3 linked regions of the Homo sapiens genome follow. The protein of the gene in region 1 purifies or fractionates together with the protein of each later gene. This does not show direct contact. Each region holds a gene or a part of one and is shown in the gene's direction. Other genes may lie near its edges. The genes, in order: UNC13D, XRN2 and ANXA5.

Region 1 (3,652 bases):
TTGGGAGGCCTAGGCGGGCGGATCACGAGGTCAGAAGCTCAAGACCAGTGTGGCCAACACAGTGAAACCCCGTCTCTACTAAAAATACAAAAATTAGCCAGGTGTGGTGGCGGGCACCTGTAATCCCAGCTACTTGGAAGGCTGAGGCAGGAAAATTGCTTGAACCCAGGAGGCAGAGGTTGCAGTGAGTTAGATCCTGCCACTGCACTCCTCCAGCCTGGGGGACAGAACTAGACTCCATCTCAAAAAAAAAAAAAAAAAAAAAAAAAGGGATGCGGCTGGGAGGAGGGAAGTTTGGCAGGGATAGGCTACAACTCCATGGCTCTGGGCTGTGGTCACTTACTGCTTCGTCTGGGGGCATCCACCCTCCAGGGCCCTCAACCACGCCCTTTTCTCCATACAGGGAGTTTGAGGACATCACCAATGCGAGCTTTCATCTGGACATGTGGTGAGTGACCTGGCCTGCCCCTAGGGATGGGAAGGGAAGGGATCTGGGGTGAGAGAGGCGGAACCTCCTCCTGGAAGAGGTCGTAGGCACTCTCTCTGCTTCCTTCTCAAACCTCTGTCCTGCCAGGGACCTGGACACTGTGGAGTCTGTCCGACAGAAGCTTGGGGAGCTCACGGATCTGCATGGGCTTCGCAGGTTCGTGTTGCAGGGCTCACAGGGAAGGGGTTGGGGCTCCTTTTGCCCTCCATCCCCCAACATGCACACTGGATGCTGGGGTGCAGGCTCCTTTGGGGTCCAGGTGGCTGCGGCCGGGGGTGGATTCCAGCCTAATCCCTTCCGACCCTTGCTGCGTCCCCCTTATGGGACCCTGCCTGACGCAGGATCTTTAAAGAGGCCCGGAAGGACAAAGGCCAGGACGACTTTCTGGGGAACGTGGTTCTGAGGCTGCAGGTGAGGAGGATGAGGAAAGGGGCCCAGGAGCGAGGCAGAGGGAGGGGGTTGGGAGGGGTTCTGGGGAGAGGCTCTGTGTCCTCACAAAGCTGAGCCTGGGGTCCACCTCCTGTCGCCTCCGCTGCCCCGACTCTATGAGGTTCTGACGCTCACGGGCTGGGCATCCCCGCCTGTCAGGACCTGCGCTGCCGAGAGGACCAGTGGTACCCCCTGGAACCCCGCACTGAGACCTACCCAGACCGAGGCCAGTGCCACCTCCAGTTCCAACTCATCCATAAGCGGGTAGGTCGGGTACTGGGCCAGTGGCCATGCCCAGCTCTTGCGGCGGTCTGCTGGGTTGCGGGGCTGGCTGCACCCAGTGTGAGGCCCTGTCTGCTCACAGAGGCCTCATTGCAGAGAGCCACTTCGGCCAGCCGCTCGCAGCCGAGCTACACCGTGCACCTCCACCTCCTGCAGCAGCTTGTGTCCCACGAGGTCACCCAGCACGAGGTATTGCCCTCCTGGGGCTGGGCGCAGCCGGGGCTGCCCTTCAGGTCCTGACACTCCTCCACCTGCTCCCCTCAGGCGGGAAGCACCTCCTGGGACGGGTCGCTGAGTCCCCAGGCTGCCACCGTCCTCTTTCTGCACGCCACACAGAAGGACCTATCCGACTTCCACCAGTCCATGGCGTGAGTACACAGCCCTGGGCAGAACCCCTGAGCCACCAGCCCCCCACGCCCCCTGCCCTCCTCCAAGCCGGTAGCCCAAAGTGTAATTCTCAGCAGAGTTCCCTTTGGCCCAAAATGTGTGTTTTAAGTTTTGAATCAGTTGCCAATTTTAAAAAGTCTAGAGATTCGGCTGATGCGGTGGCTCACTCCTGTAATCCCAGGACTTTGGGAGGCTGAGGCAGGAGGATCACTTGAGCCCAGGATTTCAAGGCTGCAGTGAGCTATGATCACACCAACACTCCTGCCCGGATCACAGAGTGAGACCTCATTTCCAAAAAATATTAGAAAAAGCTATCTGGAGATTTGACATACCATCCAGATCTCCAGCTTCTCATGAAACACAAGTGCTGGAACTGCAGGGTCATCATTTTGCTGCTTTTTTTTTTTTTTTTTGAAACGGAGTTTCACCCTTGTTGCCCAGGCTGGAGTGGAATGGTGCAATCTTGACTCACTGCATGCAACCTCTGCCTTCCAGGTTCAAGTGATTCTCCTGCCTCAGCCTCCCGAGTAGCTGGGATTACAGGCATGCGCCACCACGCCCAGCTAACTTTGTATTTTTAGTAGAGACGGGGTTTCTCCATGTTGGTCAAGCTGGTCTCCAACTCCCGACCTCAGGTGATCTGCCTGCCTTGGCCTCTCAAAGTGCTGAGATTATAGGCATGAGCCACTGCACCGAGCCATTTTGCTGCTTTTTTTTTTTGAGACAGAGTCTTGCTCTTTCGCCCAGGCCGGAGTGCAGTGGCACGATCTTGGCTCACTGCAGGCTCCGCCTCCTGGGTTCACGCCATTCTCCTGCCTCAGCCTCCCGAGTAGCTGGGACTACAGGCGCCAGCCACCGCGCCCGGCTAATTTTTTGTATTTTTAGTAGAGATGGGGTTTCACCGTGTTAGCCAGGATGGTCTCGATCTCCTGACCTCATGATCCGCCCGCCTTGGCCTCCCAAAGTGCTGGGATTATAGGCGCGTGCCACCGCGCCCAGCCTTTGCTGCTTTTTTGAGTGGACAGAGCGGAGCGATGTGTGTGCCTCTGCCCATCATGGCTGCCATTGGGCCCACTTCAGTTGCTTTCGTCTCCTGAGTCCTGGGCATTTGAATTTGGACCCGGTCCCTAACCCCAGCCCCGCTTCCCAATGCCATAGCCTTCAACTCAGCAAAACTACGCGCTGATAAGGACAAATCTATGTTGAGGGCAACTCACGTCAAGTCCTAGGAATGCCGGGGAGGGCACAGGGGGTCACAGCCATTCCAGTGCATGTGAGTAGGGCAGAGATGGGACATAGCCGGCCGGGCACGGTGGCTCGCGCCTGGAATCCCAGCACTTTGGGAGGCCGAGACAGGCAGATCACTTGAAGTCAGGAGTTTGAGACCAGCCTGGCCAACATGGTGAAATCCTGTCTCTACAAAATATAGAAAAATTAGTCAGGTGTGGGGGCGCATGTCTGTAATCCCAGCTACTCGGGAGGGTGAGGCACGAGAATCACTTGAACCCGGGAGGTGGAGGTTGCAGTGACCTGAGATCACACCACTGCACTCCAGCCTGGGCGACACAGCGAGGCTCTGTCTCAAAAAAAAAAAAAAAGAGATGGGACACAGCCAAGTGCTGGCCAGGGGAGGAACAGGAGCAGGATGCCGACTCAGGCCTGGGCTGTGACTTGGAGTCTGAGTGGGAGGCGGAGGGAGCCCAGGGGAGTGCATTTCTGGGCTGGGGTCAGCTTGTGTACTGCTAGGACCTCAGGCAGGTGGGTGATTCGGAGACAAGGGTGGAATGGTGGTGCGGCTGGAGACTGGAGCAGGCACCAGATGGGGAGGGACCTGGTTTGCCTGCAGGGCCCAAGCACAGTAATGCAGGTGGCTGCAGTGTCCAATAGGGACTTCGGCCTGTCCCCAGGCTGCTCCTCTCCCCCATCCTCTGCCCTCCCACGGGACCTCGTTTGTGTGATATCCCCCCAAACCATCTGAAAGGAAGTTCTCACTGATGCTTGCCACATGTGCACGAAGGCTCAGGTTCATAGATCCTATTTTTCTTTTCTTTTCTTTTTTTTTTTTGA
Region 2 (3,649 bases), on another chromosome or scaffold:
CTGAAAGCACACAGTATGTGCTGTTTCATTTTCCTCAGTACCACAAATTTTAAGCAGAAATTAAGTAAGTAAGGGGTAAATTTTTCCTAAATTATATACTTGGTTTCTCTATCTTATTGCTCACTTTCCATACTAATAATAATGGCAAATGTTTGTCTGCTTACAAAGTGTTAACACTGTGTTAACATCCTTTAATAAGAATGATTTCATTTATTCCTCCTAGCAGTGCATTGAAATAGATGCTGTTATGTTTACATTTTTGCAAATGAAGAAAGTGAGGCACAGAGAAGTTCAGCAGCTTACCTAAGGTCACTCTTTTGTGCCATTCTTTACCAAGAAACTTTTCACTGGAACAAAACTTACCAGAATATTTACTCTGAGCGTAATATAAAGACGTAGGGACTTCAAAGGAAGTAAAGGATCTGTTTCCACTTCTAAGGCCCCAACAGCTTTCCTCCCCTCTGTTCACATTAAAAGTTTTCCTAAGATCATCATCATTGTCCCTTCCCTTACCCTGCTGTCCATCAGGTTTTGTTCTTATTCTACCCTAGCCAAGTACTAGTATTATTCTGACTTTGTGAACCCAGCAGGTTAGTGACAAGTTTTGTGGGAATGTTTTTTGGTTTAGTTTTAGTCAGATACTTAAAATTATGCCTGAAAGCAAAAGGTAAATGTGAGCATAATAGAGTTCTATCATAAAAGTCTTACATCACAGACATTTAAGAAAGATACCATTTTGTTCCAGAACCAGGTTTTACCAGTTCTTAGTTCAGTATGTTTCCACGACGCTACTGTTTGTTGAGAATCCTATTAAGAGAATTTTGAGTGTCTTTTTTTTATTACATTGCATTTCTTGAATAATTTCCTACTTTAAGATGGTATGTATAATCCATATATCCAGTAGATTTAAAAATACAACAGGAACATCCTCCCAACACAGACACAGCCTAGAGTTAATAGATACCCAGCATTGGAGTTCCCTTTGTCACTTGAGTTTTGCCACATTGTTTGGGTTCTTCTTGTCAATGGAGGCCTCTTTTTCAGTCATTTGCAAGGCAGCCATTTAGTTTTTTACCTATGAGTGTTAAGCTCAATCATGAAAAATCTTTTAAATAAAACTCCGATTTTACCATATGCATACATTTAAAATATTCAAATTGGTAGTAGTTCACATCTCCAGTAACTTTCCAAAACAATTTGGAAACTTAAAAAAATTGTTGCTATCTACGATGCCAAATGGCTCAAATAAGTTGCCTTATTTATTAACTTCTTTTATTGATTTATTGATTGAGACAAGGTCTCACTCTGTCACCCAGGCTGGAGTGTAATGTCATGATCTTGGCTCACTGCAGCTTCTGCCATCCAGGTTCAAGTGATTCTGATGCTTCAGCCTTCCAAGTAGCTGGGACTACAGGCTCCCACACCACCATGCCTGGCTGATTTTTGTATTTTTAGTAGAGACGGGGTTTTCCCATGTTGCCTAGGCTGGTCTCAAACTCCTGGGCTGAAGTGATCTGCCTGCCTCGGCCTCCTGGAGTGCCGGGATTACAGGCTGAGTTACTGTGCCTGGCCTAATTGCTAATTTTTAGAATTTAGGATATGTCAGTTTCTGTGCTTCTATCCCAGATTTTAAAACATAATTTCCTAGGCAAATTTTTAGTTTTGTAAGTATTTGCAAAATATATAATTAGTCTAGACATGTGATAAACTTGTTGAAAATAAAGGCCTTTCTGTCATAAAAGTCAGAAGAAGGTAGTACATGACATCCTTGCTTTGTTCTTCTGTTTAATTTTAATTATTGATGATTTTTTTCATAAAAATTATATTTGTCAAAAACATTATAAGTAATCAATTCAAACAAAAAGAACTTTGCGTTTTTAAACTGTGGCTTTGTTCTTAACCTGTTTTTGGAACATAAAATAGTTTTGAATTGCATTTATAATGTATATTATTTATGCCAGCAGATCTTCCTAAAACTCAATTGAATTTTATTATTGTAAGACTCAAAAGAAAAACTGATCACAGTTAAGATGTGAATTGTGTTTTTAGCCCGTGGGTTTTGCATTAATTGGCCCAGTTTTGATGAGACTTTGGTTACAGCACAAACCTTAGTTTAGCCCTTCACTCCTGCAGAGACTGGAAGAGACCATTCCTATCTCTGCACACGGAGCTCTTCTTGCTAAAACAGATGGAGGCATTCTTGCTAAAATATATTTGTGCTAGTAATTGTCCTGAAAAATAATTAAAAGCCCTAGCCATATGCATTTTCTTTCTGAGATAAAAACTTATTTTTAATTGTATTCTGAATTACTTATAACACATTGTTATTAGAGCTCTGGTTTCAGCTACCAACTGTAAAGAAAAACTTTAGCCTTTCTAGAGTTCTTTAGAGAGCAGTTCATTTCTTCGAATCATCACACAAAAATAATTATCTCTGGTGTTGTTTTAATAAAAAGAAGGCAAGCTCCAAGTGAAGGGAGGAGAGTGGGGGTAGAGAGGATGGATTCAGGCTTGAATAGCTGTGAGAAGAATGCTTTACCCAATGAGCCCAGCGCCGGGCTTTTTTCCCCTAAGACCTCGGAAGTGAAATTCTTATGCTGATATGGTTATAACTGATTACCAGCTAGTCAGCACTTCAGTGAATTTAAAGTTTTATTGAATTCCTCCTAACATGGTCAGTGGCCCCAAAGCTTCTGATGTTCAAGTATACTGGAGCATTTGCCTCTGTTTATTCTTTGTAGTGCCTTCCATAAAATAGAAGTTATGGAAAGTGCCTTAAGGAGAAAGTAAAGTCTTAAATGGTGATTGCCTTTAGAAGGTATATCCTTGCTACATTGTTTATGTGACAGTTTTTAATTAAGTTATGATTTAGTACATTATACCTGTTGCTTTGCATCTGCAAAGTTAAAATAGTCACTTGAAGACAATTAAAACATTTCTTTCGACTAGTAATCTGCGACAGCAAACTGGGTTATAATAGCCGTTGAATCTGTGTTCCCATGTAAACTGTACACCAAATGCCAGTCAGCCCATGCCAATTAGTGCTCATGTTGCTAGGTCACCGTGGTCAATTGAAAGCTGCATCAATAGAACTTGAAAAGGTTTCCTCCCAATCAGACCTTCTGACATATTGAACAGAATAATGGATGGGAAAAAACAGCCAAGTCTCCTACCCTGGATTCAAAATACTCAGCAGTAAGAATTCATTTGCAACCTGCAATTAAGTAGAAAGAATGGATCCAAGAACGAGTCTGGACATTTTTGAAAATAAAGCCTCATTCTCCTGTCTTGTACATGTTTACTCTTTGGATAGCATCTTAAATGTAGCCATCTTGGTGATCTTGGGTCTACATCTTTAAGTGACTAAAAAGGAAATTTCCCAATTGAAAATGAACAAAATAACTTTTAAAAGTCAGAACTTCTCAGTTGAGTTTAAACATCCATTGTAATAAATGCTGATGCTTCATGAAACATGTTAGATTATACTGGATATAAGGGACACAAAGGCCATTCTGATACTCTGTATCCCATATGATAAATCCAGGTAAATTGGATTGTACTAAAATTTGGAGATGATACCTGCCGATTTTAGGCTTTGTGCTGTATAATAGGTGTGGCTTCTGATGTAAAACTGGTACTTTCCTACAGA
Region 3 (3,652 bases), on another chromosome or scaffold:
TTTATGGATAAAGAAACAAACCCATGGCTTCCACTGAATAGCAGTGGAGTTGGAATTCCTAACGAGGCCTGTCTGACTCCAAAGCTCTTTCTCTTTCACTAGAAGATAGTCAGTGTTATTGAATATTAATATTTCACTATAAGAATATTTCACTGTAAGATATTCAGTGTTCTTGAGTATTAGTGCCTTCCCTGATTTTCTCTATCATTAAAGGGCTTATTAAATATCAACTCAAGCATAGATCTAGCTTAATTCCACCTTCTTTCGGGAAGAGGGCTAGAGCAACCCTACAGAGTTGTACTCCTGTTAGGGGCTTTGTTCAGTACTGAGGTGATCTTACTGCTTTCCAAGCATTGGTTGTGGCTTTGCTAGGAGATAGTGCTGATTCTCTCATTCCTACTGTCAAGAGTAGGATAGGAGTTCTGGGAGCTTTTCAGGGTCACAGTGTAAGAAACCAACTCTAGTCCTCTCAGATGTCTGCAGTGAGGCCTGCATTCACAGGCAGAGGGCAGATTTCCCAGCATAGTTGGTGATGTAATGAGAGCATTGCTGCAGCACGAGGCTCCTGAGGGGAAAACAGTACATTTTAACCTTGTTTTCATTGATTTCTGTCCTTGGAGCACTTACTGGATAGCACTGCTGCTCAAACTTTCATGGGCATGTGGCGCACCTGGGACCTTTAATTGCAGATTCTGATTCTATGGGTCTGGGCAGGGGCTGGGAGTCTGGATTTTGAACATGCTCTCAGGTAATGCCTGCATTCTTGGTCCTTTGATTACTGAGGCTGTATAGGTGACACTTACGTGTCATGCAGTGGATATAACCATTCAGAACCCTGAGAGTACATGTGAGACTGTACATGTGAAAACTGCTTTATGGAGTTACTTTAAAGTATCCCTTGAATGGAATCCAAGCTTTTCTTAGCCTTCCAGTGACTAGGAGCAATACAGAACATGTTACACTGGCTATTATTTTTGATTCTTTCAAATGTATTATTATTAATTAATAAACCTGTTGAAAACAAATAATCTTTTGGCATTATAAAAAGGAACACACCAACTTGTACCTCGTAGCAAGGGCAGCTGGACTGTTATCACTAGTGAGAATTTGAGATTTCTTAATTGAGAGTAAGCTGAGACAGCTAAAGGGCTCTTTTATAAGCTTTTGCATTTTTGTCTCTACTGATACCTGGCACTAAGAAGATTTCTATTATTTGAGAGGTTTGATAAGCCATAGTGAGTCATTCACTTGGGAACTGAACGTTTTGTAGATAATCCACTTTTTAACATTTTTAATGTGTTAAATTGATTTAATACTTTTAATGCATTAAAACAGATTTACCTTCTTCCCCAGTAAATCCTTGTTTTATTCTTTCTCTGGAGGGAGAGTTGAACTCTTAGAGGAAAGAGGGAGAAGGAGAAGTAATCAGGCACTTTTTACTTTTACTGGGCATTTGCTACTGATTACCTGACACTGTTCAGTGCATTATCTTAGTTATATAATCTCCGTTAATGACTATATACACTGAGGCTGAAGAGGAGATTAAGTAGTTCATCTGAGATCTTGCAGATAGACCACATCTGTTTTGACTCCAAAGACTCATCCTTTGCACTGAACCAGGGCTTATGAAACTGTACTCAGGCTGAACCGTAAAGCTTAGGGAAGGGGTGTAAGGGTCCCTCATCCAGATGGATCCATGAATATTGGGCATCCTCATTTAGGAGAAAGGATACTTAGATTAAAACAAAACTGTTAAATATCATTGTTTTACATGAAGAAGCCATCATTATTATTGCATATGATTACTTAATAATAGTTTTACAGTAGATATTGATCCCAAACATAATTCTCCCAAGAAAATTAAAACATTGTGGTAAAAATAACTGACATCTCACCAATTATTCCCATATAACAGGCTTAACTCCTGTACCTACTAGAGAACATTTCTAGACATTTAAAACAGTTGATAAGAAGTGTGTGCATCAATGTCTGTGATATTGTACAAGATGAGTCCTTTACCCATTTAGGTGTTAATGTATTTGTATATTTTATCTACATGTAGAAACATACCAGAAGTAGTAACTAGCACCCTCAGGAAATTGATATTAAATAGCAACTTTTCTTTTCTTTCCTTTCTCTTTCCCCTTTCTCCTTTTTCCTTTTCTTTCCTTCACCTTTCCTTCCCCTCCCATTTCCTTACCCTCCCCTTTCCTTCCCCTCCCTTCTCCTTCCTATCCCCTCTCCCTCCCCTCCCCTCTCCCTCCCCTCCCTTCTCCTTTCCGCCCCTCTCCCTCCCCTCCCCTCCCCTCCCTCTTCCCCTTTCCTTTCCTTCGTGCCCAGGCTGGAGTGCAGTGCCATGATCTAGGCTCACTGCAACCTCTGCCTCCTGGGTTCAAACAATTCTCTTGCCACAGCCTCCCGGGTAGCTGGGATTACAGGCATCTGCCACCGTGCCTGGATAAGTTTTGTATTTTTAGTAGAGACAGGTTTTGACAGGTTGCCCAGGCTGGTCTTGAACTCCTGGGCTCAAGCGATCCACCTGCCTCAGCGTCCCAAAATGCTGGGATTACAGGCATGAGCCACTATGCCTAGCCTGCAACTTCTATTTTCTTATTTTTGTTCTTTCTTAGTTTTATAAAATTTCTCAATGAACTTGCGTTGTTTTTGTAATTAAATTTTAAAAGTTATTTTAAGAAAGGTCTGTGTCATCATGATATAGTTCTAAAGTTTAGATGCATGCATGACTTTCAGAGTTACTGTCTTTTCAGGTTTTAAGAGCATGTTCACATGGCCAGAATTGATATTATTCATTTTTATCTTTAAAATAATTAATTTTAAAATTGAGCATAAAGATACATGAGTCTCATTTTTTTCTTATTCTCCAGAAATATAATAAAAAATAGATCTTTACCACCATAATCTACATTTTTAAATATACTGTGATCAAAACTTCTATATTCAAGCCTGTTATTATCACTTCCTGTCTTTATTTGGATTGCTGCTTGTGGGTATAAGGCCAACTGCAAGTAGCAGCCTCAGCAAATTGCATTCATCTTGCTTTAATATGTAGACTTAGTTTGAAATGAATAAAAGGATAGTACAGTCATTGTAAAGGTTGATTCTTTGGGTTTTAATAAATTATTCTCACGTCAATAAGTGGATTCAGAGTTAACGTTGATGTTTGTATATAAGCTTATTTTTTTAGGCAGCTATACGTGCACAAGAAAGCATATTTTTTCCCCATGTCAAAAAGGAAGTATGGGCACTCAAACTATTCAACCACTACTTATTGAGTGCTTCTATATGCCAGGCACTGTGCTATACCCACAATCTTTTAAAAATTTATTGTGATCTTTGGAAATATGAAAACATTTTATAGCTAGCCTTGGTTAAATCTCAGTTGTAAAGAGAAAATATGAAGTGTACTTTTACTCATGTGCTATTGAACAGCTATAGAACAAGCAAAACAGAAAAGGCAGACAACTTAGCTTCCAGTTAAATCCTTTCCCAGTCTATACATGGATGTATCAACAGTGAGGTAGTCATAACTTTCTCCTGACCCATACTGTTGCTTCTGAAAGATTGGAGGTTATGGCAGACATTTTGGGAACATGTAACCTTGCACCATTGCCGTGCTTTGTTGCTTGGACCC

The links.
Region 2: the proteins of UNC13D (region 1) and XRN2 fractionate together in Homo sapiens (co-fractionation; one large-scale study listed by BioGRID). This does not show direct contact.
Region 3: the proteins of UNC13D (region 1) and ANXA5 fractionate together in Homo sapiens (co-fractionation; one large-scale study listed by BioGRID). This does not show direct contact.

The regions. Positions count from the first base shown.
Region 1 is NC_000017.11:75,837,753-75,841,404, reverse strand, and holds part of UNC13D (protein unc-13 homolog D), read left to right. Parts: intron 1-403; coding exon 404-448; intron 449-574; coding exon 575-643; intron 644-828; coding exon 829-898; intron 899-1,075; coding exon 1,076-1,180; intron 1,181-1,294; coding exon 1,295-1,387; intron 1,388-1,462; coding exon 1,463-1,566; intron 1,567-3,652. UniProt on the Homo sapiens protein: Plays a role in cytotoxic granule exocytosis in lymphocytes. Required for both granule maturation and granule docking and priming at the immunologic synapse.
Region 2 is NC_000020.11:21,383,220-21,386,868, forward strand, and holds part of XRN2 (5'-3' exoribonuclease 2), read left to right. Parts: intron 1-3,648; coding exon 3,649-3,649. UniProt on the Homo sapiens protein: Possesses 5'->3' exoribonuclease activity. May promote the termination of transcription by RNA polymerase II.
Region 3 is NC_000004.12:121,672,842-121,676,493, reverse strand, and holds part of ANXA5 (annexin A5), read left to right. Parts: intron 1-3,652. UniProt on the Homo sapiens protein: This protein is an anticoagulant protein that acts as an indirect inhibitor of the thromboplastin-specific complex, which is involved in the blood coagulation cascade.